Linked DNA regions of Homo sapiens: region 1 is linked to region 2. The links come from fine-mapping of genetic effects on gene expression. A gene starts in region 2. The other region holds a variant in brackets. All regions are shown on one strand. Distances are between the middles of the regions.

The links. PIP is the estimated chance that this variant, and not a neighbour inherited with it, causes the effect.
Region 1: its variant is the best candidate, but not a certain one, in a credible set for the expression of FRK in prefrontal cortex (BrainSeq, PIP 0.52).

What each region holds. Positions count from the first base shown.
Region 1 is chr6:116,159,382-116,175,532 of GRCh38, forward strand. All of the region lies in intron 6 of NT5DC1 (5'-nucleotidase domain containing 1), which reads left to right. It also overlaps a transcript of COL10A1 not described here. Among named protein-coding and RNA genes, the nearest start is that of COL10A1, 41 kb to the left of the region's middle. The variant A/ATT (reference allele first, on the strand shown) is at 7,825.
Region 2 is chr6:116,052,392-116,068,542 of GRCh38, forward strand. FRK (fyn related Src family tyrosine kinase) reads right to left here and starts at 8,500. Exons shown (of 8, transcript NM_002031.3): 1 at 7,577-8,500. The coding sequence starts at 7,920.

The sequences.
Region 1 (16,151 bases), 110 kb after region 2:
TTGAGAATTTACACATGTGATTATTCATTTTCTACCCATTCCTTTGTTCTTTATTGCCTCTGAGTTAAAGTATACCATGCATTATAGAATGTCTTAAATGTTGCAGACTTTTTTCACCATTATATCTGTCGGGTATTCTGGATGTCATGTGAATAATTTGCAAACTTGCTGAATCTGTATGATGTAGCTATAGCCTGTAATTTTCTTTATGCTCCCTGCAGCACACACAACACTGCTGTCATCTTTTTCCCCTTTTCTGTTAAATTCAAGGGATATATGTGCAGGTTTGTTAACGTGGGTATATTGCATAATTGTGAGTTTTGGGTTTCTAGTGAACCCATTACCCAAATAGTGAACACTGTACCAAGTAAGTAACTTTTCAACATGTGCTTTCCCCCAGCCCCCACCTTTTGGAGTCCCCAATATCTATTATTTCCATCTTTATGTCCATGTGTACTTCACTTATATGTGAGAACATGCGATATTTGTTTTTTTGTTTCTGAGTTGTTTCACTTAAGATCATGGCCTCCAGCTCTATCCATGTTGTTGCAAAGGACACAATTTCATTACTTTTTATGGCCGTGTAGTATTCCACAGTGTATACATACCACATTTTTTTTATTCCAGTCAACTTTTGATGGACACTTAGGTCAATTCCATGACTTTGCTATTGTGAATAGTGCTCAATAAACATATAAGTACAGGTATCTTTTTGATAAAATGATTTATTTTCCTTTATGTATATACATAGTGGTGGGGTTGCTGGATCAAAGGGTAGTTCTACTTTTAGTTATTTGAGAAATGCCCATAATGTTTTCCAAAAGTGTTTAACTAATTTACATTTCCACCAACAGTGTATATACATTTCCTTTTCTCCACATCCTCTCCAACATCTGTTATCTATTGGCTTTTTTCATAATAGCTATTCTGACTGGTATGAGATGGCATCTCACTGTGGTTTTAATTTGCATTTCTCTGATGATTAGTGATGTTGAGCATTTTCCATATGTTTGTTGGTCACTTGTATGTCTTATTTTGAGAAGTGTCTGTTCATATCCGTTTGTCTACTTTTTAATGGAATTTTTGTGGTTTTTTTTCTTTTTGATTTGTTTAACTTCTTTACAGATTCTGGATATTAGTCCTTCTGTCAGATGCATAGTTTGCAAATATTTTCTCTCATTCTGTATATTGTCTATTTGCTGTGTTATTTCTTGTCCTGTGCAGAAAAACTCTTTAGTTTAATTAAGTCCCATTTGTCTACTTTTGGTTTTGTTGCATTTGTTGTTGAGGTCTTCGTCATAAATTCTTTGCCTAGGCCAGTGTCCAGAAGAGTTTCCCCTAGATTTTCTTCTAGTATAATATTTATAGTTTGAGGTCTTACATTGAAGCCTTTAATCTATCTTCAGTTAATTTTTGTATATGGTAAGAAATAGGGGTCCACCAGCCATCCCATTACTGGGTATATACCCAAAGGACTATAAATCATGCTGCTATAAAGACACATGCACACGTATGTTTATTGCGGTATTATTCACAATAGCAAAGACTTGGAACCAACCCAGATGTCCAACAATGATAGACTGGATTAAGAAAATGTGGCACATATACACCATGGAATACTATGCAGCCATAAAAAATGATGAGTTCATGTCCTTTGTAGGGACATGGATGAAATTGGAAATCATCATTCTCAGTAAACTATCGTAAGAACAAAAAACCAAACACCGCATGTTCTCACTCATAGGTGGGAATTGAACAATGAGAACACATGGACACAGGAAGGGGAACATCACAATCTGGGGACTGTTGTGGGGTGGGGGGAGGGGGGAGGGATAGCATTGGGAGATATACCTAATGCTAGATGACGAGTTAGTGGGTACAGTGCACCAGCATGGCACATGTATACATATGTAACTAACCTGCACATTGTGCACATGTACCCTAAAACTTAAAGTATAATAATAATAAAAAATAATAATAAAGATGCATTGATATAACAATGTAGATAAAAATAAAATTATATAAAGCAGATAAAAAAAAAGAAATAGGGGTCCAGTTTTATTCTTCTGTATATAGATAGCCAGCTTTCCCAGCAGTATTTATTGAGTAGGGTATCCTTTCCCCATTGTTTATTTTTGTTGACTTTGTTGAAGATCAGGTGTGTGGCTTTATTTCTGGGTTCTCTATTCTGCTCCATTGATCTATGTGTCTATTTTTGTACCAGTAGCATGCTGTTTTGGTTACATTAGACTTGTAGTGTAGTTTGAAGTCAGGTTATGTAATGCTTGCAAGTTTATTCTTTTTGCTTAGGATTGCTTTGGCTATTTAGGCTCTTATGGGTTCCATATGAATTTTATAATTGTTTTTTCTAATTCTGTGAAATATAACATTGGTAATTTGATGGGAAGTTGCATTGACTTTCTAGATTGCTTTGGGCAGTATAGTCATTTTAATGACATTGATTCTTCCTGCCCATGAGCAAGGGATGTTTTTCCATCTGTTTGTGTCATCTACAGTTTCATTGTTTTATAATTCTCCTTTGTATTTCACCATCTTAAATGTATTCCTAGATAGTTTATGTTTTTGTATGGCTATTGTAAATGGGATTTTCACCATCTTAAATGTATTCCTAGATAGTCTATGTTTTTTTATGGCTATTGTAAATGAGATTGAGTTTTTTATTTGGTTTTCTGCTTGACCATTGTTGGTGTATAGAAATGCAACTGATTATGGTGTGTTAATTTTGTATCCTGAGACTTTAGCAAAGTTATTGATTAGGTCCAGGAGTCTTTTGGAGGAATCATTTGGGTTTTTTAAATGTAAGATTATGTCCTCAGTGAATAGAGATAATTTGACTTCCACTTTTCCGATTTGGATGCCTTTAATTTCTTTCTCCTGCCTGATTGCTCTGGCTAGAACTTCCATTACTATGTTGAATAGGAGTGGTGAAAGTGCACATCCTTGTCTTGGTCCAGTTCTTAAAGGAAATGCTTTCAATTTTTCCCTGTAAGTATGATGTTGGCTGTGGCTTTGTCAAATATGGTTCTTAGTATTTTCAGTTATGTTCCTTTAATGCCTAGTTTATTTATAATTTTTATCATGAAGAGATGTTGGATTTTATTGCATGTTTTTTCTGCATATTGAGATGATCATGTGATTTTTGTTTTTAATTCTGTTTATGTGGTGAATCACATTTATTGATTTGCATATGTTGAACCATCCTTGTGTTCCCAGAATAAAACCCACTTGATCGTGATGAATTATCTTTTTGATGTGCTGTTGGATTCAGTTTGCTAGTATTTTGTTGAGGACTTTTGCATCTACGTTCATCAGGGATATTGGCCCATAGTTTTCTGTTTTTGTGTTATCCTTGCTGGATCTTGTTATTAGCATGATACTAGTTTCATAGAATGAGTTTAGGAGGAATTCCTCCTCCTCAATTTAAAAAATATGTATTTTTAGGCCGGGCACAGTGGCTCAGAGCGCCTGTAATCCCAGCACTTTGGGAGGCCAAGGCGGGCAGATCACGAGGTCAGGAGATCGAGACCATCCTAGCTAACATGGTGAAACCCCGTCTCTACTAAATATACAAAAAATTAGCCAGGCGTGGCGGCAGGCACTTATAGTCCCAGCTACTCAGGAAGCTGAGGCAGGAGAATGGCGTGAACCCGGGAGGTGGAGCTTGCAGTGAGCCGAGATCGTGCCACTGCACTCCAGCCTGGGAGACACAGCGAGACTCCGTCTCAAAAAAAAAAAAAAAATATATATATATATATATATATTAGTAATATTGATACCAGCTCTTCTTTGTATATATGGTGCAATTTGGCTGTGAATTCCCCTGGTCCTGGGTTTTTTTTTGTTGTTGTTTGTTTGTTTTGGTTGGTAGATCTTTTATTACTGATTCAATTTTATAATTTGTTGTTATTGGTCTGTTCAGGATTTTAATTTCCCCCTGGTTCAATCTGGGAGGTTGTATGTTTCTGGAAATTTATTTGTTTCCTCTAAGTTTTCTAGTTTGTATGCATAGAGATGTTCATAGTAGTTTCTGATGATGTTTCGTATTTCTGTGGTATCAATTTTAATGTTATCTTTATCATTTCTGATTGTGCTTATTTGAGTCCTCTTTTTTTCTTGTTTAATCTAGTTAGTAGTCTATCAATTTTTGTTTATCTTCTTAAACAACCAACTTTTGGCTTTGTTGATCCCTTGTGTGATATTTTAGTCTCAATTGTATTTAGTTCTGCTCTGATCTTTATTTCTTTACTTCTGCTAGTTTTGGGTTTGGTTCGTTCTTGTTTTTCTAGTTTGTTAGGTACATCATTTGGTTGCGAATTTGAGATCTATCTTTTTGATTTATGAATTTAGTACTATGAACTTTCCTCTTAACACTGCTTTTGCTGTATCCTAGATTTGATATGTTACATGTCTATATTCATTTCCAATTCTTTTTTATTTCGGCCTCAATTTTGTTAAAGTCATTCAAGAGCAAGTTGTTTGGTTTCCATTTACGTATGTGGTTTTGAGAGTTCCTTTCAGCATTCATTTCTAATTTTATTCTGCTATATTCTGAGAGGATACCTGATATTATTTTGATTTTTAAAAATCTATTGAAATGTGCTTTGTGACCAAGCATATTGTCAATTTTAAAGAAAGTTCCATGCACAGATGAGAAAAATGTATATTCTTTGGTTGTTGGGTGGAATGTTCTTTAGGTGTCTATCCATTTGGCAGAGCCCGTTTTAAGTCAAGTTTCTTTGATAGTTTTCTCCTTCAGTGATCTGTTTGGTGTTTTCTCTGGGATGTCGAAGTTTCCCACTATTATTGTATGGCTTTTTATTTTATTTTCTTAGGTGTAGTAGTACTTTTATAAATCTGGGTGCTCTGGTGTTGGGTAATGTATATATTTAGGATAGTTAAATCTTCTTATTGAGTTGAAGTCTTTATCATGTATCATACCCTTCTTTGTCTTTTTTTACTCTTGTTGGTTTAAAGTCTATTTTATCTGACATAAGAATAGCAACCCCTGGTCTTTTTTGTTCCCCATTTGCATGATATATCTTTCTCCACCCCTTTACTTTGAGCTTGTGTATGTCTTTATACATTATGTGGGTCTCTTTTAGGCAGCAGATGGTTGAATCTTGTTTTTCTTACCCAATTTGCTAATCTATCTCTTTCAAGTATTTATGTTCAAGGTTAATATGCATATGTGAGGTTTTGTTCCTTGCCTAATATTGTTAGCTAGTTGCTTTGTAGCCTCAATTATGTAATTATTTTATAGGATGTGTGAACTTTGTACTTACGTGTGCTTTTGTGGTAGCAAGTATCATCTTTCTGTTTCCTTTTAGCATTTTTGGTGTACTGGTCTAGTGGTGACAAATTTCCTTAGCATTTGTTTGTTTGGGAAATACTTTATTTCTGCTTCATTTATGAAGCTTAGTTTAAAAAGATACACGCTTTGGGAGGCCGAGGCAGGCAGATCATAAGGTCAGGAGATCGAGACCATCCTGGCTAACATGGTGAAACCCCGTCTCTACTAAAAAAATAAATAAATAAAATACAAAAAATTAGCGGACATGGTGGTGGGTGCCTGTGGTCCCAGCTACTCGGGAGGCTGGGGCAGGAGAATGGCGTGAACCTGGGAGGCGGAGCTTGCAGTGAGCTGAGATTGCACCACTGCGCTTCAGTCTAGGCGACAGAGCGAGACTCCGTCTCAGAAAAAAAAAAAAAAAAAAAATTATTGGCTGGCATTATTTTTCTTTAAGAAGTCTAAAACTAGATCCCTGTCTCTTCTGGCTTGTCAGTTTCTGCTAAGAAATCTGCTGTTAGTCTGATAGGATTTCCTTTATAGGTGATTTGATCCTTTTTTCTAGTGGCGTTTAAGATTTTTTCTTTAGCATTGACCTTGGATAGTCTGATAACTATATACCTTGGTGATGTTCACCTTATATCATATCTCACTGGTGTTCTGGATTTCTTCCACATGGATTTCTATATCTCTAACAAGATCAGGGAAATTTTCCTGAATTCTTTCTACCAATATGTTTTCCAAATTGCTTACTTTTTCTTCTTCTTTCTCAGGAATACCTATAAATTATAGATTTGGTGACTTCACATAGTCCTGTATTTTTAAAAGGATTTGTTCATTTTTTAAAATTCTCTTTTCTATTTTTGTCTGACTGGGTTAATTCGAAAAATGCCTCTCCTACATCCACAACAGTGGACTGAGGGAGCAGGAGATGACCCCCCTCTACATCTGTTACCAACCACCAGTACCACCCCATTCAGTGATCAGTTTGTACCTGCATTTCCTTTGTCCCAAGGGGGTTCTTAGTGGGCCGCACTTCCCCCTCTTCTAGGGGCAGCCTGTGCTTAGGGCTGAATGTCTGGAAATCCCACAGCTCCCCAGGGACCTGCTGGTCCCCTGTGGTTGTCAAGTCAGAGCAGGTTCTGGGCTATGTTTGCAGGGTACTGGTGATTGCAACAACTTGGGCTGAGATTCCCCATGCAGGGTAGTAGCCCACAATGAATGCACAACCAGTATGGTGTCTGTCCTCTCAGCTCAGGCTTGAGGGGAGTGAGGGGATACCTGCACAAACTAGCCACTCTGTGCTCTGTCCCCAGGAAGATCCTAAATCCGCACTGACAGCATTGCCTGGGGTCATGAAGGTAGAAAGGCTCCCTGACAATTTGGCAGTCAGCAGCTTATTGCAGGGGTGAAGGGAGAAGAGAAGCACCCCAACCTACCCTTCAGGCGGGATTCAGAGGTTCTCGGGAGTCAATCTCTGCGAGACTCTTGCTGCTTTCCTTTTCTGCAACCCCACATCAACCAGTGGGGTCTCCAACAGATCCTGGCTATCTTCCCTAAGCTTTCCATTCAGATCATGACCATTCATCTATGTCTTTGATCTTCTCTCTGAGGATAACTGACATCCAAAATCCCTAGTCAGCCATCCAGATTCCTCCTAACCAACAATTTTGATACATGGTGGTTGGATATTCAGTTCTAATTAAAAACATAAAGGAATGGATCAACCAATCTTCAACAAAGGTGCTAAGAAATCACAATGGAAGAAGGATTTTGTCTTCTGTAAATGGTATTGGGAATAGTGGATATTTGACTAGTAATTGTGATGAATTGCTAGAGGCTGAGTGTTGGGCCATCAGAGAGTGAGAAACTCCTGGCATCGATCTCCATTTACCCAGTTTCCCAGATATTTCCCTTGAGGTTTTCACTGCTGACATCCTTTTCTACATGCTGATAAAAAACACTCTTAAAACCAAGTCAGTAGTGTATTTCAAAAGTTAATTCAGTTATTTATCTAAATCCATGAGAAATTTCTACTAAAGTTTCAGAGACTTTTCATCTTTTATCTAGTAGTTACTTAAATTATGTAAGAGATAAAAATGGTTCCCTGATGTAAACTTCATCACAGTGGTTTCTATTTAAAGACGAAAGGACTGAAATTCTGAAATGTCTGGAATCTGACCTTGAAATGAGAATAATTTTTTGTTATTCAGAATTGAGCCAAAGAATTGAGCCAAGGAAGTATCTTGCCTTCCTTTCTTGTCTTTATTAATTGTTTTGGGGAGCCTACTCTGTACAGAGTTGCATATTAGGCCTACTATAGGACTTATAAAGATGGTTTATAAATTTTTGCCCCCAAGAAAATTAAATCACACTTAAAACTATTCAGAGCATGTGATATCCGTAGAATTATCTTTTATCACTGATGATTTGTATATGTTCAACCAAATGCATCAGATATAAAAGTGACATACTTTGTACTTAAAAGGTGTTTGTAAAATTAGTTCAAATAGAAG[A/ATT]TTTTTTTTTTTTTTTTTTTTTTTTTGAGACAGAATCTTGTTCTGTCGCCAGGCTGGAGTGCAGTGGCACAATCTCAGCTCACTGCAACTTCCGCCTCCCAGGTTCCAGCGATTCTCCTGCCTCAGCCTCCCAAGTAATTGGGACTACAGGCATGCGCCACCACTGCCGGCTAATTTTTTGTATTTTTAGTAGATACAGTGTTTCACCGTGTTAGCCAGGATGGTCTCAATCTCCTGGCCTTGTGATCCACTTGCCTTGGCCTCCCAAAGTGCTAGGATTACAGGTGTGAGCCACCGTGCCCAGCCCACATAGAACTTTCTAAGGCAAAAAATATGCATCATTTTGATACCAGTTATTTGTACTGATTTCATTTGATAAAATTGCAATATTTTATAAATTGACAGGCATTTTTTACTTCCTTCTTTTCTTACCCTTCTACCCTTCGTTAGTTTTTAATTTGTTTGAATTGTTCATAGGCAATGTTTCGGCTCAGTGACTTGGGAAGTAGAGCTTTCCTAGAAAAGTCAATGCCCATGACCGTTGTTGGATAATTACGTTGCATAGCCCTCAAGTTGTTATGAATAGATATGATTGTTTAGCTCAAATGAAGTGTAACATTAGAGCTAAACAATCATATCTGTGTATTGGATGTTGATTTTCTGAAAATTTTTTTATTTCACTTTCATTCTTAGAGAATATTTTTAATGGAGGTCTAGGTTAATGGTTATTTTCTGCACTATAGTCTAGTTTCTATTGTTTATGTTGAAAATTCAGTTATCAGTATAATTGTTCTTTAAAGGATAATCTGTTTTGCTGAGATTACTAATTTCTCTTTGTCTTTGGTTTTTCATCTTCGATTTATGATGTACCTGGTGTCTTTTTTTTTTTTTTTTTTTAAATTCTCCTTGGAGGGCTTCTCAGATATTCACTTAACACCATTGGTTTGTTTTGGAAAATTCTGAGCCATTATCTCTAAAAATATTGTTCTGCTCCTTTTCTCTTTTCTCTCTTTCTGGGATTTCAGTTATTCATATTTTAGAAGATATTTTTACTATCATTTATGATCTTTCACCTTCTCTCTTTTCTTGTCTGCCTTTTGTTCTGTTTTCTTTTAATCTCATTTCTAACCATTTTTCTAATTCTCTCTTCAGTTGCGTCTAATCTGCTTATAAACCTATCCATTGAGCTTTTAATTTTGATTACTGTATTTTTCAGTTCTAGAATTCCATTTAGTTCTTTTTCTATTTTTCAATTCTCTGACAAAATCTTGATTTTATTTTAGAGCTTCCTGAATTTATTATTTATAGTTTTCAAGTCTGTCTTTATACCATAGGAGCTTCTGTGGATCTGGTTCAGTCTGTCTTCATGCCATAGGAGCTGCTGTGGATCTGGTTCTGTCGTGTATTTTCCCCCTTTTTTTGATTGTTTGTTTTGTTTTTATATTATATTGTCTCCTTGAGTATCTGATAATTTTTTATTGATACTAGCTATTGTTTTTTTTAATTTTATAGAAAAATGTTGAGGTCTGGATTACTTTCTACAGAGAGTACTTTTCTACAGAGAAAAATGTTGAGGTCTAGGATAACTTTCTACAGGGAGAACTTATGTTTGCTTCTGGCAGGCAGCTAGGGCTCTAGCACTCCTGGATCACCTGTCATCAATTTTTAGAGATTGAGGTGATGTGAAGTTGTGCTTCAGGCCATTGAGAGCTGTATTATATCTGGTTCGTACTTCTTTCTGTAGTATAGCCTTTTGGGTCAACCTGGAGAGCTCATTAACTTCTAATAAACCCTGGAGAGTTTATTAGCCTCTACCTAACCTTGGCAGGCACTGGCCTCCATTTTTTGTCCTCCAAGCCTCTTGAAGATTGCGACTTCTTAGGCTCTCCTTTACTTTTCTTGAAGTTGGTGTTACTGCTAATTCCAGGCAGAAGCCCCAGATTCCAAGCTCAGCTTTCTGGGTTTCTCTTTTCCTCAGCTTCTCAACTTGACCTCTTAAATCTTCATTGACATTTTGGTTCTTCAGTGCTGTTAAGCAGGTATTTTTTAAAGTTTGTTTAACTTTTCTAGTTATCCTCAGTTAGACAATTTGTTCAAATGGCATAGTTCTCCACTGTCAGAAGCAAGAGACCAATTTCCACAACATTTAAAAAATGAAAACATGTTATAGTTTCCAGTTTATGACTGTTACAATATTTTGTGTCTATGCTTACTATATTGCCACTTCTGTAAGTTCAGTAAGCATAGTGATTAGCCAGAATATCATGATAGGTGCCGTAAGTTCTGTATGAAAGACTATATGGTAGGAAAATATATATCTTAACAAGCCTTTTGAGGATTTTAGCTATTCATTTTGCATACTGATCAACTATATGCAGCATTGCATGAGCTCTTTAGGTATGGGGTAGCCTGTAGTACCTGCTATCTGCTAAGCTTTATTTTTTATTGAGAAATTTTAACAAATGGATAAAACATGAGGAATGAAGAGTTCTATTTTGGACCTCTTGGGTTTGAGATACCCATGTGATGTCCTAGAGGAGATGTGTGGACAATTGGACAGACATTTGGAGTTCAGAGGATTATCAATAAAAACCTATTGATTGAAAGTGTGTATAGATGATATTTATGAAAGGAAGAAAAACTCAGATTGAGCAAGTGATAATCCAGCATTTATAGTTCTTAGGGCAGAAGAGGAGTTGAGAAGAAAGGTAGATAAGGAAGAAAGGAAAACAACAGAAATAGGGGAGAGGGGTTTCCTAGAACTAACAAAGAGAATTAGTCACCTGTTGAGCCATTGGGTAATAGAAAGACAGTTAATTGGCCATGGGATTAGCAATATGGAGCCATAAGCGACATTGTCCATAGCTAATCCCTCTTTTCTTCAGTAGGAAGACAAGTTTAGAAGGATAAGGGGAAATTAGGAAGTGGATATGGCCAGTGTCTTTATATATAAACATTCTGTCGGTTTTGCTGTGAAGTGGAGAGACAAAAGGAGTCATAGCTAGGGGATGATATGGAATGAAAGGAGATTATCTTGTGTCCCCACCAGTGATTGGGGGGTGTGACCTGATTAAGAAGATAATTGTGGTGTATATATGTACTTTTTTTTTAATTCAAAAGAAAGGGTTCATAGAGTACAGACTTAAGTTAAACTGAATTCGAAGTCTATTCTGCCACGTAGTTGGTGTGCTTGTAGGCAGATTATCTAGCCACCATTTATTTTTTCCAACAGGGAAAGTACCAGGTTCATAGCCACCATTTTCTCATAGAAATGGTTCCTGTTTAAGGGCTTTTGTGGATATATAACTAAATCAGAAGTGTACGTAAAGTACCTGACTCATAATAAGTAATCAGTGCACCTTAGCTGTTGGGTTTGTTTGTTTTAGTCACTTTTAAATTCTAAATAGGGTATATGTTCAGAAACTATTAAGAACTGTTTGTGGATAAAGCCATGTTTCTTAGCATAGCATACATAGCCCTGGCTGTTGCTGTACCTCCCTACCCCAAAATTCAGCCTTAGCAAACTGCTTGCTTGCTGGTACTAGGAAATACCTCTGAAATCAACTGAAAATACTGCATAGTACCTTCAGTTGATCACCTTAGAAGATCTTGCAGTTCTCACTCCCACCTGCCGTGTAGCCTATCCTCATTATCTGTCAGGGCCAACTTATCTTTCAAACTGCAGCTTAAGGTCACCTCCTCCCTTAAGGCTTTTCCTGACATCTAGCCTGTCAAACCTCATTCTGTATTTGACCTGCCCATTCCTCCTCTGTGGTCTCATTTTATTTAGCCTGTTACCACCCTACCACGCCTCTTCATTGGACTTAATGATTCACACATCTCTCTGTTTTTACTGGCCTGTAATATCCTTAGAAGTCATCTTTTTTTTTTAAATCCCCAACATAGCACTTGATCCATAGTAGGTGTTCCATAAGTGATTGTTGAATAAATGAATATATGTAAGGTTAAATGACCCACTTATATTATTGTCACCACTACCTTTTACATATTTTAATGTTTTAATCACTTAACTTATTTTTTAATTGCCAAGATTATTATTTTACGAAGAATACACATTATAAAATCAAATAAATATGTGGTTTTTGCTTTGACTAGAAAAGCATTATTTTGTGGATTTTGAGACCAGGAATTATAAATAGACACTGTTCTAAAAGGCCATTTGTAATCTATTTGTCAGAAATTTGGAATATACTTTATAAAAAAAGCCAGGCTGTGCAAGTGTTAGTGGTGGTAAAGATGATTATTATCATCGTAATAATAATCAGATTTCAGACTGGTACTTACAAAAGACTTGTTTAAACCATATGTCATATAACTTGAGAGCCTACCTTTTTGGGGGGACTAAGAATAGGGCAATAATGTGGTTTAGGTAGGAAAAGCAGGAAGACAGTGTATTCTATATTTGACTTGGCTGAATTCTCTCTTTGGTATCCCCTATACTTTTCTCTGCTGTTTCTATTCTACTTTTGAATTTAAAGATTATTCCAGAATACTGAGTTTTTACGGTTTTCTCCCATGGTAAGAACAGTGGAGCTGTGTTGAGCAATTGGGGTACAGAGAGAAGCCTTGGTACAACCATTTGCATAAATGTGCAATTTGTAAATTTAGTGTTTTGATATTAAAGAGGTACTTAAACAGTTGTCTTTAAATTTGTTTTCTATATACAGGGAAGTTTAAGTCCGAGAGTGAGAGAGTTTTCTGACCTGCTTTGCTTAGTGGATAGGATTTTATTGATGGATAGCCAGCTGTATGACAGCCGCCACATCTTAAAAGAGAAATTATGTTGTAGAAAGATTAAGAGGAAGGTAGAGAAAACACTCTCACTTCCATCCACACATCTATGGTTTCAGTGTTTTTTCCATCTGTAAGTCAAGATGACTGAAGTAGTTGAGCATTTCCTAACCTGTTGTAAATTTGTAAACCCTTTCCTAAGTGATACAATCTCATGATTTCCTCATAGAAAGATTGAAAATTATTTTTTTCACTTTTACATAGTATATAATAAGTGGTTTTAAGTTTAAGGTTATATTAGATAAGTATATTATTAAAGATTGGATTGTCAAGTTCATTTTAGTATAACCCCTTAGTAACTTTTTTTTTTTTTTTTTTTTTTGAGATAGAGTCTCGCTCTGTTGCCCAGGCTGGAGTGCAGTGCCACAATCTTGGCTCGCTGCAACCTCTACCTCCCGGGTTCAGGCAATTCTCCTGCCTCAGCTTGCTGAGTAGGTAGGACTACAGGCGCACGCCACCACGCCCAGCCAATTTTTCTATTTTGAGTAGAGACAGGGTTTCACCATGTTGGCCAGGATGGTCTCGATCTCCTGACCCCCTGATCCACCCACTTCAGCCTCCCAAAGTGCTGGGATTACAGGTGTGAGCCACCGCGCCAGGCCACACCTTAGTAACATATATACTTTGTAAGGAAATTGTTTATGTTTTCTCTGTATAGCAGATAACATATATTATTTAATTACATAAGAAAAGATTATTTCCTGAGAAATTTTAAAGTATTTATTATATTTCTTTATGTACTCAGGCATCAAAAATAGTCAAAACTCTTTTCACATCTGGATGTTTGGAATTCTTGAAATTTGACCTTTAGGAAAATCTACTCTCCTTGTTTTTATTTGGTTTCCAAATGATGAGGTAAGATAGGATGTTTCAGGATTCTTTTTGCAGGCACTTTTCTACAGTTTCACATTGCAGGTGTGGATAACCAATTAGGATAAAATTATATTTATATCTTGAGATATCTTAATTTTTTTACATAAGAAATTTGATCAGAGGAATACAATTCACAGATATTATTTTGGAGAGAACCTATGGAATTGTCATTTTTATGTTCTTCTATAACTTTTAAAGTTCAAAATTTGTGGTGATCCATTATGGAGATAAATTAAACACAATATACTAAAAATGATAGCTAAAAACATTGTATGTGTCTAAACCACAGCCCCTGGCAGTGTTCATCTAAAGTGTAAACTATAACTGTGTCAGTGGCTACTCCTTACCACTCAACTTGAAATACACATGGAGCTGCTCCACGTTTTATTTTTAAGAGTTGCAAAATTTAAAACTTAGAAAAATATGATTAAAAAATAAATTAGAACATTTACTCTTTAACAATCTGAAGTTGAAATACCTTCTCCCATCTGGGGTGGGAAAACACTGACGGTTCCTTCCAGCTGTGTGATTTTTGGACAGCAGAACAGAATCCTCCAATGGTGTAATGAGAGAGGTAGGCAGCCTGTCAGTCCCTTTAGAGCAGAGAGCTTCATTCACTTCATGTAGAGGGTTCCCGCTTTGAGCAACAGCAACACTAAAGCTGAGCGAGGGCGAGTGTGCTCCTCAGGGTATGAGGAGCTGTGGACTGTGGTAAAAATCAGACCCAGCTCAGAAAATTTCCTTGGGCTCCTCTTTTCCTGCACATATTATTTTTGTAATTTATTTATTTATTTTTTTGGTTGTCTTATACACTTTGTTTTGGAATAATCCCTAAATGTATAGAAAAATGATAAAGACAATATAGAGTGATCCTGAATATCACCCTAATGTTCACATCTTACATTATTATGGTACCTTTGTCACATCTAAGAAACCAACATTGGCACATTCCTATTAACTAACCACAAGACTTCATTTAGCTTCTACCAGTTTTTATACTAATGTCCTTTTCCTGTCCCATAATCCCATTCAGGATACCACATTGCATTTAATCATCACATTCAATTAGTCTTTTCTGGTCTGTGACAATTTCTCACTTGGAGTGCTAGCCACGTATTTTATAAAATGCCCCTCCATTTGGCTTTTGTCTGATGGTTTTCCATGACTAGACTGCAGTTGTGGTTCACTTCACAGAAGTGAAGAACTAGTTTTATCACATCATATGAGGGGTACATGCTGTCAACATGACATCACTGCTAATATTAACCTTGATTACCTGACCAACATAGCATTTGCCATGTTTCTCTACTGTAAAGTTACTCTTATTCCCCTTTGCATACTCCGTTTTTTGAAAGCAAGTCACTAAGTCCAGCCCACTCTCAAGAGTGACGGGTAGGTGTTAAATTCCCCTGCCTGAAGTAGAAAAAAATATACTTATTTGGAAATCTTCCGTAAGAAATATCATAGACATACCATTTTGACCTTACTAATAGGTCTGTTCAGCAGTGTTAATTCTTCCCCTCACTCCTGAAGGAAAAGACGATATGCATGATTAATGAAATAACCAACTTAAATTATGCTCATAACTAGATTAAATGTATTTTTCACCACTGAATATAAAATTTAGAGTGCCAATGTTAAGTGAATAAAATATTTCCTATTCGTGTTTTGTTTCATGATAAAAGTAATGAAAAAGAAAAACTTGTGTGAAGATTAGGTAGAATAGAGAATTCAGGCATTTTCCCTTTACTATTTTCAATAAGATTTTTTAAAGACATCTTCGATTTTTATACAGGTACTTGTTTTCTCTCCTTTCTAGCTCTCATAACTTTTCTGAATTTGTATTTTGCTTTCATCATACTCCATTTTGAAGGACTCAGTCTACAATTCTACCACTTGCTTTGCAATCCACTGGTACCATAAAGCATGGCTAATTCAACCTAATGGGATTATTAATAGTTCCCTACAAACACTACATAAGCCATTTTAGGATAGCAAGGGTTTCTTGTAGTATTAAAGATACATCTAAAAAGTCATGTTTTATAATAAACCATTTTGTCTCCTTTTCTTAAGGATTAGGTTATTGAATGACCATAATAATCATTAGTAAGGGATATAGAATATTTCCATGAACAGGATTATCTACTCATTGTTTTAAAAATTAAGGAATTAGGCTTATTAACTTCAGAAATTTAATTTTCTTGAGATATAATTTATATACAATAAAATATGTATATTTTGTATAGAGTTTGATGCATTCTGACTCATATATACATTTGTATAATTGCCATTCCAATCAGGATACAGAGCATTTCCAGGAAGTTTCTTTGGAGGCAGTCCTCCCCATCTCTACCTCCCACCCAAGAAAACTAATGATCTGATTTCTGACACTATAGGTTAGTTTTAGAAAGGCAGTTATTTTATATTACTCACATTTTTTCTCTCTAGCTACCTTCATGATTTCCCTTTTATATTTCCTTTTTAATAGTTTGACTATGATGTGGTAGATTTTGAAGTAGGCGGAGTATTTATCTCACTGAACTTATTGGATCTGTGTTTGATATCCTTCATTATTTTTTGAAAAATTATTGGTCATTATCTCTTCAAATATTTCTTCTGCTCCATTGTCTCTCCTCTTTCTC
Region 2 (16,151 bases):
GCTGCTCTTTAAAAGACCTGAGATTTGTAGATAAGCAATCATTCATTTAGTTATTCATCTACCCAATCAGTGCTTATTATTCACAGGTATCATACTAAGCTCTGGGAGGAGCAATGGCTCACCTTTCCACTACCCACATCCATAGTTTACAGCACTGCAGAAAATAAATTAGCAGTAAAGACAAAGGGTGCTAACAACTCTAGGCAGGAACACCTCATGTAGTCTAGTATGTCAGGAAAGGCTTGGGGAAGGAGGAACAAATAGGGTGAGACTTGAAGGATAAGTTAAGCTGGTCAGGAAAAAAAGAGGAAGGAGAGGGTTATAGGCAGAGAGAATAGCCCATCTGAAGACCAAGGCTGCAGGTGAGGGAGAGTGCAGACGGTCGAAGACTGAAAGACACTCAATGTCCAGGACACCTGTTACAGGGAAAGAATATTGTGAGCTCAGACTAGAGTGGGGGTGTAAAGTATGATCCATTTAGACAGAAGTAAAAGAGGAGCTGCCAACTAAATGAAACATAATATTTATTAAACCTTACTATGTGTCAGGTTCTCTGCAGTGCACCCTTTCTGCACAGTCTCATTTATGTCACATAATGATCCTATAAGATAGGTGTCACTGTGATTCCTATTTAACAGATGAGAAACTGAGGCAGAGGGGTCAAGTAATTTGCTCAGGCTCACACAGCTAAGACATTACAGAGTCAAATTCAAATCTAGATCATCTGAGCCTATATTTTATGTTCTTAGGCATACCATAGGCTAGGTCAAAAAGGGTAACCAGCATTATATTTCAGTAAAACTCCATACACTAATGTTTGGATCTAGTTGAAACATTCACCAGAAGAACCCAAAGGCTGCTCTTATTTATATTGCCCATATAGGTTCTCACTATTGTATTGGTAGTTAGAAAATCTGAAGGGAATTTTCTGAGCTGCAACAAGAATTAATTGAGGCAAAGTTTTGTTGGTTTTTCCTCTTTTGGTAACCTCAAGAACAATGAAAGTGCACAGCATATAGTAGCTGCTAAAAGAATTTAGTCCTGCTTTACTGTATAGAAGGTTGTGTCTACTTTGACAATCTCAGTTTGGTGAGATTCTTGACTTCTATTCATCAAAAAGCAACACTAGGATGTATCTGCAGAGACAAACCATGGAATTAAATTAATTCATTTGAACAAAAGTAAACCAATTTGAATCCAATAGAACATTTTCTTTTCAAAGAATAAATTTGATCAAGTTAAAATTTGGGTTCTAATCTTTAAGACTGGAGCTCAGTAGTTAATGATTTATTTCACTCACATAAGATTTTTCCCATTGTTAGTAATTTGTAGAAAACCTGAAAAGCAAAAATAATCAATACTTTTACTAAAGAGTGATTCTGAATGACATATTGCAATTGGAAATTTTAAAGTATTATCAATGTTGCTACTTTTCCTAGAAAAGACTCCTAACTCATTTTAATGATGCCATACTATGTCACTTCACTGGTTCTCAAAGGTACTTTGAGATGCATGTAATCAAGCTTTACTGCTATTAATTACTTGACACAGGTATTAATTAAACTTCAACTGGGATTTTAACATAGTTGAATTGGTTGCTCTTTTCTTCACATCTATGATTTTGCTATTATTTTTATGAAATATATTCTAATTTAGTAGTTAATTATTTTTCTTAAAAATAGTGGCAATTTATGTAAAAATTTATTATATAACAAATTGAGTTAGTTATATTAACATAAACAGTACAATTATATTAACATGAAGTCAAATAATATTATACCTGAGATGAAATTTTTTGATAAATTATTTTAAAAACGTATTTGTCATATTCTTATTTTACATCATCATAAATAACATATGGTGAAAAATAAAGGATGGGGACAGTAACGCTAATTAATCTCATGGCATTTAAATATGCTTTTGGTTGACTTAAATGATTTGTGCTAAAATTTTTATCTTGATTAATCCAAAACACTTGATAAACAACCATATGTATATTTATAGTGTATTTTTTATAAATATAGTATTATTTATATAGTATATTATATATTATTTATACTATATTATATATAATATAATATATATAATATATAATAGTATATTATACTATTATAATATTATACTATATATTATATATTATATAGTATAATATAGTATAATACTATATTTTATAAATATAGTGTTATTTATATATATAAATACCTTTTTATTTCATTTCTAAAATTATAGTAAGTATACTTTGTCTTAGAGGAGAGAACCCAGAAATGCCAGGCATTATTTTCAGGCATTTATTACTAGGTATTATTTTCATTTTGACACATGGGCATTTAGTCTTCCCTGACAACTTACACAAAGGGAACAAAATAAATGATCTAGATAAAGAACAATTGTGGAACTGATCGCACACTGGTGACTTTTAATAATTCAAACTTCTCAAAGTAGATAACATCTATTATGTCAGAGTGGATTATGAATATTCTGATGACTTTTAAAATGTATTAAGGGTAATGTTAATTTTTAAACCACATTGTTTCTATACCTATAATTAAGATGCAAAAGCTGGTCTCATATCCCAGCTAAGAAAAAAATCTGCTGACATTTAAGTTGAAAATGATTAGGCACACTATGTACAATTTGTATTCAATAATTATTAAATTCCACAGCATTCAAATGACAAAATAGCAAAGCCTCACTCTATTTTAAAACGGTGATATAGGTGATATAAGAATCTTTCCAAGAATATACCACTTTGTTTCACCATGCTGCTTTCAAGCTCGACAATGGCAATCATCATAGGTTAGATAAAATCTTCAAAGAACTCTAGTCTGACACACTAAAGAGCAGCACAAGCAGGAAAATATGGCCTAAATACATGGAGAAAAATCCCATTACTTTTATACTTCAGAACATTCTAACATTTTTATACCATAATCATAAACTACCAACAAAACTACAAGTTACAAATATTTATTCTTGCTTTCTTTTTCAAGGAAGCCACTGAAATGATGAATAGATGAGGAATTGGAAATTATCTACCTTTCACAGTAATAAGAGGAGAAGAAAAACTTTCTACAAAATCCAGTACTTTGCTTCTTCCCCTGCTAAAGTGCTAACAAGAGATACAAAGACACCATCGTAGGTCAGTATGGGTGGCTCCTCTAGCCCTCCTACCCACAAAGGTATGCCATGCTCAAATTTAGGAGACAGAAATAAACTTTATGGCCTTTATTGTTTCACACATAAGTGTGGAAATATTTCTTAACATAAAGCCAAATTATATATATATAACAAAGCAAATACTAATTCCTCTGCCTTTGCTGAGTCATTCACTTAGCACCATACCAGGCCTATAGAATGGACTTAAGACAAAATTACTGATTCACAAGTAAGAAGATACACAAGAATATGACCTAGAAAAATGTGGAGCTTAATAAACAATAAACTTTAGAGATGATTGTAGTGATCTAATTTTCTTAATAGAATCTTCATTTATGTCTTTGAGAAGTGTATGGAGTCAGAAGTTCAGCAGCACATTTCATTGTTGTTATCATAACTTAAACTTAACATGCAAAGGGGAGTCAAATCAGCTATCTCAACTGCTGCCCTTGGCTTGCGTGGTCAAGTTGGCGAAGCAGAAATCATCAGTGGCTGGCTTATGTGATTATGTCCACCCCATTCCCCTCCTACCAATCCCCTTTCTGGGAGATTAAACTGATCTCATCTCTGACCCTAGTTCAATTTAACACAAAAGTATGTTAGACAACACCTAAGGTACACTTTAACAATTAAGCAAAAAATTGTTCATTTGGTTTTTTTTTTTTTTTTTGGTTGGTGGGGATTCGAGATAGGGTCTGGCTCTGTCACCCAGCCTGGAGTGCAGTGGCACAACCATAGCTTGCTGCAGCCTCAACCTCCCAGGTTTAAGCAGTCTTCCTGCCCCAGCCTCACTCTCTCGAGTAGCTGGGACTACAGGTTTGTGCCACCATGCCTAGCAAATTTTTTAATTTTTTTGTAGAGACTGGGTCTCACTATGTTGCTCAGCCTGTTCTTGAACTCCTGGACACAGGTGATCCTCCCTAAGCAAAAAAACTTTTTAAACTCTTTGCAGATAAATGATGCTACGTCTAATATTATTGCTGATCATATTGCTTTTTATCAATATTTTGCAATACTTGAATTTTTTACAATTAAAGCAATGAAATTTAAAGCCATTACTTTTGGTTCTAATATTTATATGTTATTTCCACATCATTATTTTTATGTGAACTTTATATCTTTAAAAACACCATAAATAAAATATTAAAGAAAGTTCTGATTAATAAGACCCTAAGGGCAAGGTTTTCGAGGGATTTCACATTGAAGATGTTGAAGAAAAAGACTCATCTCTAAAATGAGCTAGGAATAAATTCAAGTCGAAGATAAGATAAATCTAATGATTCTTCATAAAGACAAAATAAATCTTCAAGAATTGGTTTATTATATCACTTAGTGGAAGATATTCAGTAAAGGTGAAAAGCATTTCTAAGTGGGATAAGAATTAGTAAATTGGGCTTTTTAAACAATAGTTTGTTTTTCAACATCTCTACTTCCAAGTATAAAAGAAAACAAACAAACTGCAAACTAAAGCCTTAAACTAATTTTCCCTGGCACCAATAACTCCAGAAGTATTTGCAGTTTCTTCTTACAGATGCACATCAAAAGTAAAGACATAAAAACACAAATACTAACATACGTTGCATTAAACTGGTCTAATTAGGAATTAGATGACAGCTTTCATTGGTTTCCCATTGCCTACTCATCCCATACATGTGGATATAAACAATAATCTTTCCTTAAGTCAACTTACTGAGCTCATGATTTTAAAAAATTACGTTAATTTTCACAGCATTCAGGAGAAAAAAATAGACTTTTGAAAAAACTCACTGAAGAAAAAATATTAAAATAAGTTGTTTTTATATAATTCTTCAAGTGTTAAAGTACTGTGTGAGCCACTTGGACACACTCACGCAGAAGGCTGTTCAGTAAAAATCGCTTCTATTTGAGATGGAGGGGAATTCTAGAAGCTACAGCTACTTGCACTAAGAGTATTGAAGCAATTTTGCCTTACGGTGACAAGAAACTTCAGAAGTAAGCCAGGTTCACAGGTGAAGACCATGGTGTGCACTTAAAAGAAAACAAGTAGCCTGTTCCAGCCAGGAGGCAGAGTGGCAGCATTTTCTGGGCATCATGGTTTTTATTCCAGTGGATGTGAAGATCCCAAGGAAAGCTAACTACAGAGATCTAGAATGGTACTGACAGGTAGGAATGCTGCTGAGAACCAATTCCAAGAAGAAAGGTCAAGGTAATGTGCAGAGGGAAAAAATATTATTGGCTACAAATGACTCTGAGAATCAAAAATAGCCATAATAATTTAGTTGCCTTATTTTGTGTTTGTAGGCAAAGAAAATCTAAATTAATAAGAACACTGCTCTCAAGCCTTTTACCCAGAATATGATACCTTCGGATTGCTTGACTTGTTTCAGTTAATTTGCTTTCTTCAGCATTTCTAATACAGTCAAGCATGAATGTAACTGAACCACTACATACGAACATAAGAGCTCCTGTTCCCAGATAGTCAGGAAATCCATTGGTCATGGCAACCCCAGAGAGTTGCAGATGAGGAAATTGAGGTCCTAAGTAGTTATATGAGTTGAATATATTTAAAACTAACAGATTATGAATTCAAGGCATGAAACATTAATATATTATTATTATAATATACATGTTATGCCAAATATAAAATATGCATAATGCCATACAGGACATAGAAATCATAAAGTAGTGAAAACAGATAAATGCACATAAGTGTATCCAATATATAAAGATATTTCCTGTAGATTATCACAGAAAGCAAATGTTCACACAGGTGATTTTCCCACTTGATAACTGATCAATTCCATTCATTAAAAGTATATTTCAATTCATTTCTATTTAAGCATAAATTAAGACCCTTCTAAACATTTATAGGTTCTTGGTGTTGAAAAGAATCTCAAAACTCAAAACTCGTCAAACCTCCCTTCATATGTGATGTATGAGTTTGGAAAGCAGAAACAATGCTCTATGGCTATTTATTATTATCTTATTCCCTGGACCAGTAAGGGACGCTCACATAAAAATAAGAAACACTTACATGAGAACATAAGAGAATCTCCAATGGTTTCCCTATTAAGAAACCATTCTATAAAATGAGTCCATTTTGGCCGGGCGCGGTGGCTCACGCCTGTAATCCCAGCACTTTGGGAGGCCGAGGCGGGCGGATCACGAGGTCAGGAGATCGAGACCATCCCGGCTAACACGGTGAAACCCCGTCTCTACTAAAAATACAAAAAAATTAGCCGGGCGTGGTGGCAGGCGCCTGTAGTCCCAGCTACTTGGAAGGCTGAGGCAGGAGAATGGCGTGAACCCGGGAGGCGGAGCTTGCAGTGAGCCGAGATCGCGCCACTGCACTCCAGCCTGGGGGACAGAGCGAGACTCCGTCTCAAAAAAAAAAAAAAAAAAAAATGAGTACATTTTTTGAAAGACATTCCCAGTCTAAGGTTTCACTGGATTCAGGAAGCAATGAGATCAGGGCCAATGACAGTCTCCATTTGCTTCCCAACCCACCAGACCCCAAGTATCCATTGTCAAGACTATGTTTTATCCACTTTGTATTCAGTCACTACTAGAATAATCTCCTTTACCCTCCCCAACTCACCAGGCCCACTACTGTCTATGCCTGGCACTTGGAGGGGTGGTAGGTGGATGGATGGATGGATGGATGGATGGGTGAATAAGTACATAAAAACTTTCCTCTTTTGTTGCAATATAATTCATATTTCATTCAAATACCAGGATAAAGTCTTTATCTCCTCTTCAAGGAGATGTTGTCCTTTTTCCTATCAAAATTTACCAAATGTCTGTAGCTGGCCAGTTTCTAATCATAATAAAAACCAAAAGATATCATAATTTGGGTAGCATATCTCAGGATCTGGGAATTAAAAAAAAATCTATATCATGATGTCACTGAGAACATTAGTATCTTCTAAGTGTTGTCTTCTACATTAGCCCTGTATATTCCCATCAGAATGAAAGGGATTAGGATTAGAGCTAGGGCTAGAGTTGATATATTACCCTGGAATGTTTCAAAAGTTTTTTTTAAAAAAAAGAATCTGAAGTTTAGATTTGAGAATATCATTAAGGGAAGTCTTATAATTTACCTTCAAACAAAATGCAATTTTATTGCTAAAGTGAGGCATGAGTTATTTTACAGCCAAAGAGAAGGTACAGTATTAAACACATCATTTGTTTATTTTGAAAATACACCCTGGACCTGTGGATGTACATACTGTAATTGAAGTCATCTCAACAACAATTACTGGCCAGTTTCACACTCACTTAGCGGGGGAGGTGTGTTTCAATTAGTGGTTTCTTGCCAGTACTTCCTCATACTTTTTAGGCAACTCTTTGGACATTAGGGGGTTGTAGAGAAGTAGAAAGGAAAACTCATTACCCAGCCCTCAGAGAGTTCAGAAATTAAGTATAAGTTTGTACTACTCACGGCTCTGCCTGTAGGCTTCTGTCCTCAGCCACGTAGTTAGAAGGAATATAGCCTTGTAGTTGCTGACTGGAGCCATCTCGTCTTTTCTCCAAGTGTCTGGCAAACCACCAGCCCTCATGCAAAGTGTCCAGAACTTGAAGTTTGTCACCTGCTCGGAAGCTCAAGTCCTCAGCAGTCCGAGCCTGGTAATCAAACAAAGCCACAAAGTAGTGGCCATGCCTCTGTGACTGGGGAGAGCAAAGGGCCCCTGGATTTTCAATCACGGTTGACTTGTCTGCCTCCGTGGACAAACAGGGGAGATAGGGTTCTAGGTACTCCCAGAGCCTCTGACAGATGTTGCTCATTGTGCCTTGGTGGGGAGAAGAGGAGCAGGGCTTCTCCCTCTCCCCTTAGTCTCTGCGATCCACCTTATCTTCCTTCACCAGGCAACTTTGAAGTCAGCACCAACTCACCATACTTCGGAGAGTATGCAAAGTCCCGTTTCAGATCAGTCCAGCAGCTGGGTTGCAGCAAGTCCTACCTGGAGAGACTTACCGGCTTGCTTTCTGTGGCTGGAGGTGCTACCCCGAGGCAAAACTGAGCAGGAGCTGGGCAGCTGCTCACTAGGAAGGTGTCTTTTCTTCTTATCTGCTTAAGAATCCCACAACAAAAATAAAATAAAATTAAAAGGGCTTTATTTAGACAAATATCTGAGAACAGAATGGTGCCATCTTGCCTTTTGTCCCAATAAAAAGTTAGCAAGAGGAAGCTACTAACCCCTGGTAAAACCTCCACGTCTTGCTTTCGCCAGGAGCTCTCCCCCTGTTTCAAGTCTGTTCCTGTCTTTCGACCAGTCCGGATCTGGACGGCTCTCTCCTTTTTGCTAATGAATAACCAACCAGCAGAGGCTGTTGCCTTTAACATTCTGAGCTATGAACAGACTGTAATAATTTCCCCTTACTTCCTGGTTTCTTTCTGTCTGTGATCTAAATGGTATTCTGACCTCTTTACCCCTCCCATCTCCCACACCCAAGATAGACCAGATCCTTTACCAAACTGTTAAAGCAGCCGCTAAAATCTATATTCCTTTTGTTTCATCCTGGAGAAACAGGCTAGCCCAGGTAGCTTTTTGTCTTGTTATGTTCCCAGCACTGAAATTCACGGCAGAGATTTTTTTCCCTGACAAATAGGAGTAGAATTGTTTTGCCACCACTAGGGGAAATTTAAAAAGGCAAATTAAAGTATTTAGGTATTTCTTGTCAGACACAGAGCAATTGGAAAAGAACCATCAAGTCACTCCCTTTTCTCATTACCAAGAATAGATTTTAATAGCTTCAAAGAATAGTCACAGTCTGGAAAAGTAAGAAAGCAGCTGACTAAAATGCTGAGAACCCAAAATGTTGCTTTTTCCCACAGACATTTAATTTCCTATCCTTCAAGTACTATTTGGGAAACACACACACACACACACACACACACACACACACGCTACACACCAACTAGGTGACCAGTAGAGAAAAAAAGAGTAGAACAGAAAAAGAGCTCTTTGCACACTGCTGTGGGGGCTCTTTCTGCTAAACTTTGACCTCCAGATCTATGCTAGTTCTTACTAACTTGGCAAGAACTCAGGAACTAATGAGACTGACATCAGGACAGCCATCTCTAGACAGGCAGTGGTTTTTGCTTGACCTTCCCTAGTTCGGAGCAGCTGTCTCACAAATATGTGCCCTGGCAAAAACAGCCGGGCAATGAGTCTGGCAGATCAACGTACGGTCATTTATACTAGTAGACAGCATTGCAAACTTGTTTATGAAGTGTCACTGATCTCTCTATAAGACTTTTTTTTTATTTCTTTCTTAAAAACAATCTTTCTAAATGTTGTGAGACCCTTGAACCTGGCTAACCTATTCCTAGTACAAGCTCATAACTTCTGTTCTTTTTCAAATTGCAAGGCATTTAGTAATCAGAATAATCAAACTCAAGAAAAAGGAAGAAAGAAAGGAAGAAAGAAAGAAAGAAGAAAGAAAAGAAAGAAAAAGAAAGAAAAGAAAGAAAGAAGGAAAGAAAGAAAGAAAGAAAAGAAAAGAAAAGAAAAAGAAAATCAGAGAACCATGGCATCAGCCCAACCTGCTATTACTTTGTGCAAAAATCAGTCCATAGCAGTGGACAGATCAATTGGTTAAAATAAAATCTTGTGTTATGCTCCCAAGTTTCTCCAATTGTCTTTGGAGTCAGAGTACAAATAACAAGTTGACAGAAGTATAAAAGCCAAAAGCTGAGCCAAATTTTTGTTGTTGCTGTTGTTGTTTTGTTTTATAATGATATGAGACCTAAAATAGACTGTATATGTAATTTCATATTATATACAAAACAGAAAATATATAATACCAAATGACCATAAAGGATATTTTGTTCCAAATACAATAATGGATGTAAAAGCATAGGATTCTATTAATGCCCCAACAGAGGCACAGATGCTGAAGTCTTCCCTGAGACATCTACATGATCTAAAAATGAAAAAAAAAAAAAGAAAAGAAAAGAAAGAAAGATTTGGAAGCAACCTGAGAGATGTATTCAAACCCAATTTGTAAGTGGGGTTTTAGATTTTTGAATTGTCGGGGTTCTAAATTCAGATATACCTTTACTATAGTTATGACAAGGCATTCTGGAAAAAGACAAAGCAGCAGACCTGCACACCACAGTCATTGAGCAAGTGAGTGAAATTCAAAAAGCGGCCAACCATCCAAAGATGTCAGGTGAGCAATGGCCTGAGAACGCAGAGCTGAGGGGTGGAAAGAGAGAAGGTTTCTTTGTGTCCATAGTACCAGAATTCTCCAGTCACTCAATCTCCAAGTCTTGCAGTTATCTTTCGTTTGCTCCCTGGTTTCTTTGAGCTAATCAATCACTGAATTCTGCTCAGTCTTCCTTTTCATTTATTCCACAAACTTTTTTTAAAGCTCCTTCTGAGCGACAGCTGGGCACCAGACAGAAAACAGAATATTCTTTCCTAGATTATTCCAGAGGCCTCCTAACTGATCTCCCTTCCTCCAGCTTATTCCCATCTCTGGCTCATCTTGCACACCAAGATGAGTGGTGTTCATAATAGTTTATAGAGTAGTTTTTATAATAGTAACAATGACTGAGGTGATAAGTCATTCCTAGTCATTACTAGTAAGAGTAGCTATCTGTTTGGAAAGCTTTCTATGTGCCAGGCACTGTACTAAGAATGTTAGAAATAACATCCAGGAATTCTACTCCAGGGTATGTATCCAAAAGATTTGAAATCAGGAAGTCTGAGAGATATTGAACTCCTATGTTTATTGCAGCACTATTCAAAACAGTCAAGTTATGGAATCAATCTGAGTGTTCATCAATTGATGAATGGACAAGAAAATATGGTATATATACACATTAGAAACCTATTCAGCCTCAAAGAAGCAGGGAATCTTGTCATTTGTGACAACATGAATGAACCTGAAGGACTTTATGCTAATGAAATAAACCAGACATGGAGGCAAATACTGCATGTTCTGACTTATATGTGGAAGCTAAAAAAAAAAAAAATCCAACACATAGAAGCAGAGAGCAGAATGGTGGTTACCGGAAGCTGGGGAATCAGGGGAATGGGGAGATGTTGGTTGAAGGGTACAATGTTTCAGTTAGACAGGAGGAATAAATGATAAGTATTCCATTCGAGACTGTGGATATGTTAATTAGCTTGAGTCAATAATTCTACACTGTATACATGTATCACAGCATTACTTTGTACCCCATAAAATATACAATAATAATTTGTCAATATCAGGTAAAAATAAGAGAATGTTACAAATAACATATCATTTAATTCTCACCAAATAAAAAACAATGCCTACAAAGAAGGTAGTATTTTTTTTTAAAAAAAGTATTTTAGAGAAGAAACTGAGGCTGAAAGGCTAGGTAATTTGTCCAAGGTCACACGGCCACCAAGTGGCTAACCCTGAGTAACACTCTGTTCTCAATCTGACTCCAGAGCCTGAGAGTATAAATCCTCAGTTTTGCTGACTCTAAAAATATCTGATATTATTCTTCTATGTAAAATTCTGGAAGAACCTCCAACACATTTGGAATAAACCTTAGTTCTTCAGCATGATACACAAGGCCCTGCTAACTTCTCCAATCATGGTTCATCACTCCTGCACACAGGTCCTGTGACATAGTTCGCCAAATGACCAGCAGTTCCCTGCTGCACCTCTGCATCCTCCTCTACCTGCTCCCCTGATGACTTCCTTGTCATTTTTCTAGGTTGGGTTCAGGCGATGCATGAATATAGATGAAAGGCCTCTATGCACCCCTAAATTCTGGCAGAAACTTCTACTTGGTTTGTGGTTGAGCCCCTCTTTGGTTTTCCAAGGAGAACTGAATTCCCTTCTCTGAACCTTTAGTGTCTTGTACAATGTCCATTATGTAAATAATAAATATTTGATGAATTAAATAATTAACACAGAAATAAAGAAAAAGAAACAGTGTGGGAGAGACAGAGATAAAAATGGGGAGGAAATGGAAGCAGGAAGAAACAATTGGGGAGAGATAAACATTTATGTGAATATTCATGATTGAGAGTGAAAGTTCTATAGTGTGAAAAGAGCCAGGAGCACAGAGGAGGGAATACATTCTGTCTATTGCTTCTCAGTCCCTTCCTTTCCTCTCTTATTGCTCCCTGAATGTTAGATTCCTTTGCCAGCCTCCTAACCCAGTTTTCCTGCCTGGAGTCAATTTTCTTCTCATCCTTATAGCAAATTGCCACCACATTAATCTTAATCACTCTCCTACACAATAACCTTCAACAGATCCTCATTGCTTGGAAGATATGACTTGGAATTCAAGGCTAAGGAATTTGTACTTTATCCAAACTTTATCAGATGTACCCTTTCAACACCCCCTCCATTATGGCTTTATGTTAGCCAGACTGGTTTATTAGATCTCCCATATGCCTCATCTGTTCCCACATCTGATCCTGTATCCTTTGCCATTCTTTTACTCAGTATTCCTTCCACTGCTAACTTCCCCTCCCAGTAAGTCTACTTACTCCTGCCTGCATTTCAAGATCTGAATAAAAATCCCTCACCTCCTTAGACCTTCCTTAACCATTCCAGCCAAAAATCACTTCTGTCTTCCTTGAATTTTCTAGCTCCCACAATCCCCACTCCTAATATACACAATATTAAATGAATTGAACCATGCTCCTATACCTGGTATGCTGAATACTGCTACAGAAAATCCAACAGCTATTCAGTTTTATACCAGGACGAATTAATGATCCCCAAACCCTGCTAGGCCTCAGCACTAGGGCTTAGAGAGAGCTATCATAAAGGAAAATTGGACTCTGTCTCCCCAACTCACACAGTAACATATTCCCCCACACATAGAAAAGAGGATTATGGCCTAGGGAGCCATAAAAAATAAAAACAAAACTCTCCACCACATAGTCTTCCTCCAAACTCTTGCTGTGAACCCATATAATCTGCAAATGTGCACTTCTTCTGCATACCTGTTGACCTTTGCTCAATCCCCTTCTTTTGCCTGATGTGATGACCCCAACTTCTCTCCCTTTTCCTACATTAACCATCTTCCAACTTATTTGCCAGATAAATATGGGTTCTTGTCTATCTTTTAAGAATCGAATAAAATGTCTCTGTCTTTATTAATTCTTTCCCAACTACTTCATTAGACAGAATTGACCACTCTCTCATTTGTGCCCTCCCAGCATAACCTATACCCATTTTTGTCATTTATTCCATGTGTGATTCTGATCTCTTTATGTACTTAATGTAGTGTTCTTTTGTTCCTATATTGACACAATGCCTAACACTTAATGGACACTCAATAAATATATGTTGAGTGAAATCTAATGAATGTCATTCTCCTAGAACACAGTTTATTATATCTTATGTAGTCTAATATCTGCTTATATGTAATTGTGTTGTTTCCCCAAGCATATTGCCCTGTCTTTGAAGACAAGTTTATGTCTTATATTTCTCTGTATCACAAGGAAAATCTAGAATCTGTCCTATGCATAGGAAGTCTCCCTACTTTCACTCTTGTTCGATTGCAATTGTGATGTTTAATATTGAGTGTCAACTTGATTGGATTGAAGGATGCAAAGTATTGATCCTGGGTGTGTCTATGAGGGTGTTGCCAAAGGAGATCAACATTTGAATCAGTGGGCTGGGGAAGGCAGACCCACCCTTAATCTGTTCGGCATCACCTAATCGGCTGCCAGCAAATAAAAAGCAGGCAGAAAAACATGAAAAAGCGAGACTGGCCTAGCCTCCCAGCCTACATCTTTCTCCTGTGCTGGATGCTTCCTGCCTCGAACATCAGACTCCAGATTCTTCAGTTTTGAGACTCGGACTGGCTCTCCTTGTTCCTCAAGCTTGCAGGCAGCCTATTGTGGGAACTTGTGATCATGTAAGTTAATACTTAATAAACTCCCCTTTATATATATATATGTGTGTGTGTGTGTGTATGTGTGTGTGTATCCTATTAGTTCTGTCCCTCTAGAGAACCCTGACTAATACAGCAACTTATTCTCCAAATGGCAGCCAAAATAATCTTTGTATAATATCAATCAGACCTGTGTTTTTCAATAGCTTCCCATTGCACTTATGAATTCCAAATTCCTTATCTTCAGAAATAAGGCTCTGCTGGGGCTGTCTCCAGCCTGTCCCTTCCCTCCATCTGGCACCACTCTTCTGGCTCTCTATGGGCCAGCCACAGTGGCCACCTTTCTGTTCACCACGGCAACAGCCAAGCCCTTTTTTCTGACCATGGATTCTTTCTCACTATTCTTCTAATCAACAACATTCTTGTCCAGATTCTTCATTTGGATGGATCTTTCTGTTCTCAACCTAAATAATGTATCATTAAAAAGGTTACCCCTAACCACTCTGTCTAAAGTAGCAAAACTACCCAACCTAGCTTCTCTCTTAGCATGTCTCATGGGTTGAATTGTGTCCTCCAAAAGGATATGTTGAAATCCTAACCCTCAGCACTTCAGAACGTGACCTTATTTGGAAATACGGTCTTTACAGAGGTAATCAAGTTAAAATGAATTCATCAGGGTGAGCCCTAATCCAGTATGACAGGTGTCCTCATAAAAAGGGAAAATTTGGACACAGACAGGCACAGAAACAACACCAAGCAAAGATACACAGAGAGAAGCCCAGCCATGTGAACAGAGTAATGCATCTGCAGGCCAAGGAATACCAGCAAACACCAGCAGCTAAAAGAGGCTAGCTATAGAGCATGGCACTGCTGACAACTTGATTTCAGACTTCTAGCCTTCAGAACTATGGAAGAATAGAGTGCTGTTGCTTTAGGCCACTCAGTCTTTGGTACTTTATTACAGCAGCCCAAAGGAACTATTACAGCATGTCACTATTTTTATTTTTATTTTCATTTATTTATTTATTTATTTATTTTTTGCAGCACTCATCACACTCTGTATTTACGTCTTCTATTTATTTGCCTACTGAGTACAGTCTCCTCTACTAGAAAATGTTCCAGTGAGATGGCGGCTTCATCTACCCTCTTCACTGCTATGTCCCTAGAGCTTAACCTGTTATAGGCAATCAACCAATAATCATTACATAATGGTAAAAATAACAAAAAACATTTTTATTGATAAAATAATATCACTACAAATGCAGTAGATACAAAGACACTGCTATTTCAGTGGAAAATTCCTATTTCTAGAAGGAAAGTTGGGGCCACTTATACTAATTGCAAGAGTCTTGTTGTTGTTGTCATTGTTTTCTATAATAGAACAAAGTGAAATATCTCTAAAGATTATTTTATACCAAAGGCTGAATGATAATGTCTGGCTACTACTGCTGAGAGGCTGATGATGGGATTTATGTTATTCTGAGGTTTAATGGAAACTTTTTCAGGCTTCAGCTGTCTTCCATGATGCCATTAAATAAGCAGACCGCAAACAATTTCATCTTATCCCTTGGACTTGAGTCTTGGCATCAGCTTAATCTTTTATTCTCTTCCAGACAAAATTTAGATACTTCCTTTGGCTATAATACAGCTTGGTACCTTGGGATTCTCCATCTCTTTCATCTTAACCTTCACCAATTCCTCTTTTAGTCATCTCTTGTAGGACCAAACACTAGCCTGACACTAGGGGAAATGACAAGAATCCGTTAAAATGAAAGGAAATGAAATATGGAGCTCTTTAGTTATAATCAGAGGAAAACAATGATGATGATCATGATGATGATGAAAAGATGGCCTTTAATATTTGCAGCAGATGGTAACAACTTAATTCTAAATTTATTCCAGTTTTCTTGGCCAAAGAGTATAATCCTCAGACTGGAAAAAGAAGACCAGACATATGTGAGTGAGTCTTGGAATTTAAAGAAAAGCAATGACTATTAGAAGCTAATATGGGCTTAAAAAGAAAAAAAAAAGATGCCGAATTAACCTCAATTTCCTTTTTCATATAGAATTACTATTGTAAATAAAAAATTGTTTAATTACTTCGGAACTTAGAAGACATCAAAACCAAATGCTGTATTTTACAACTGGTTCTATCTAACCAGCTGAAACCGTT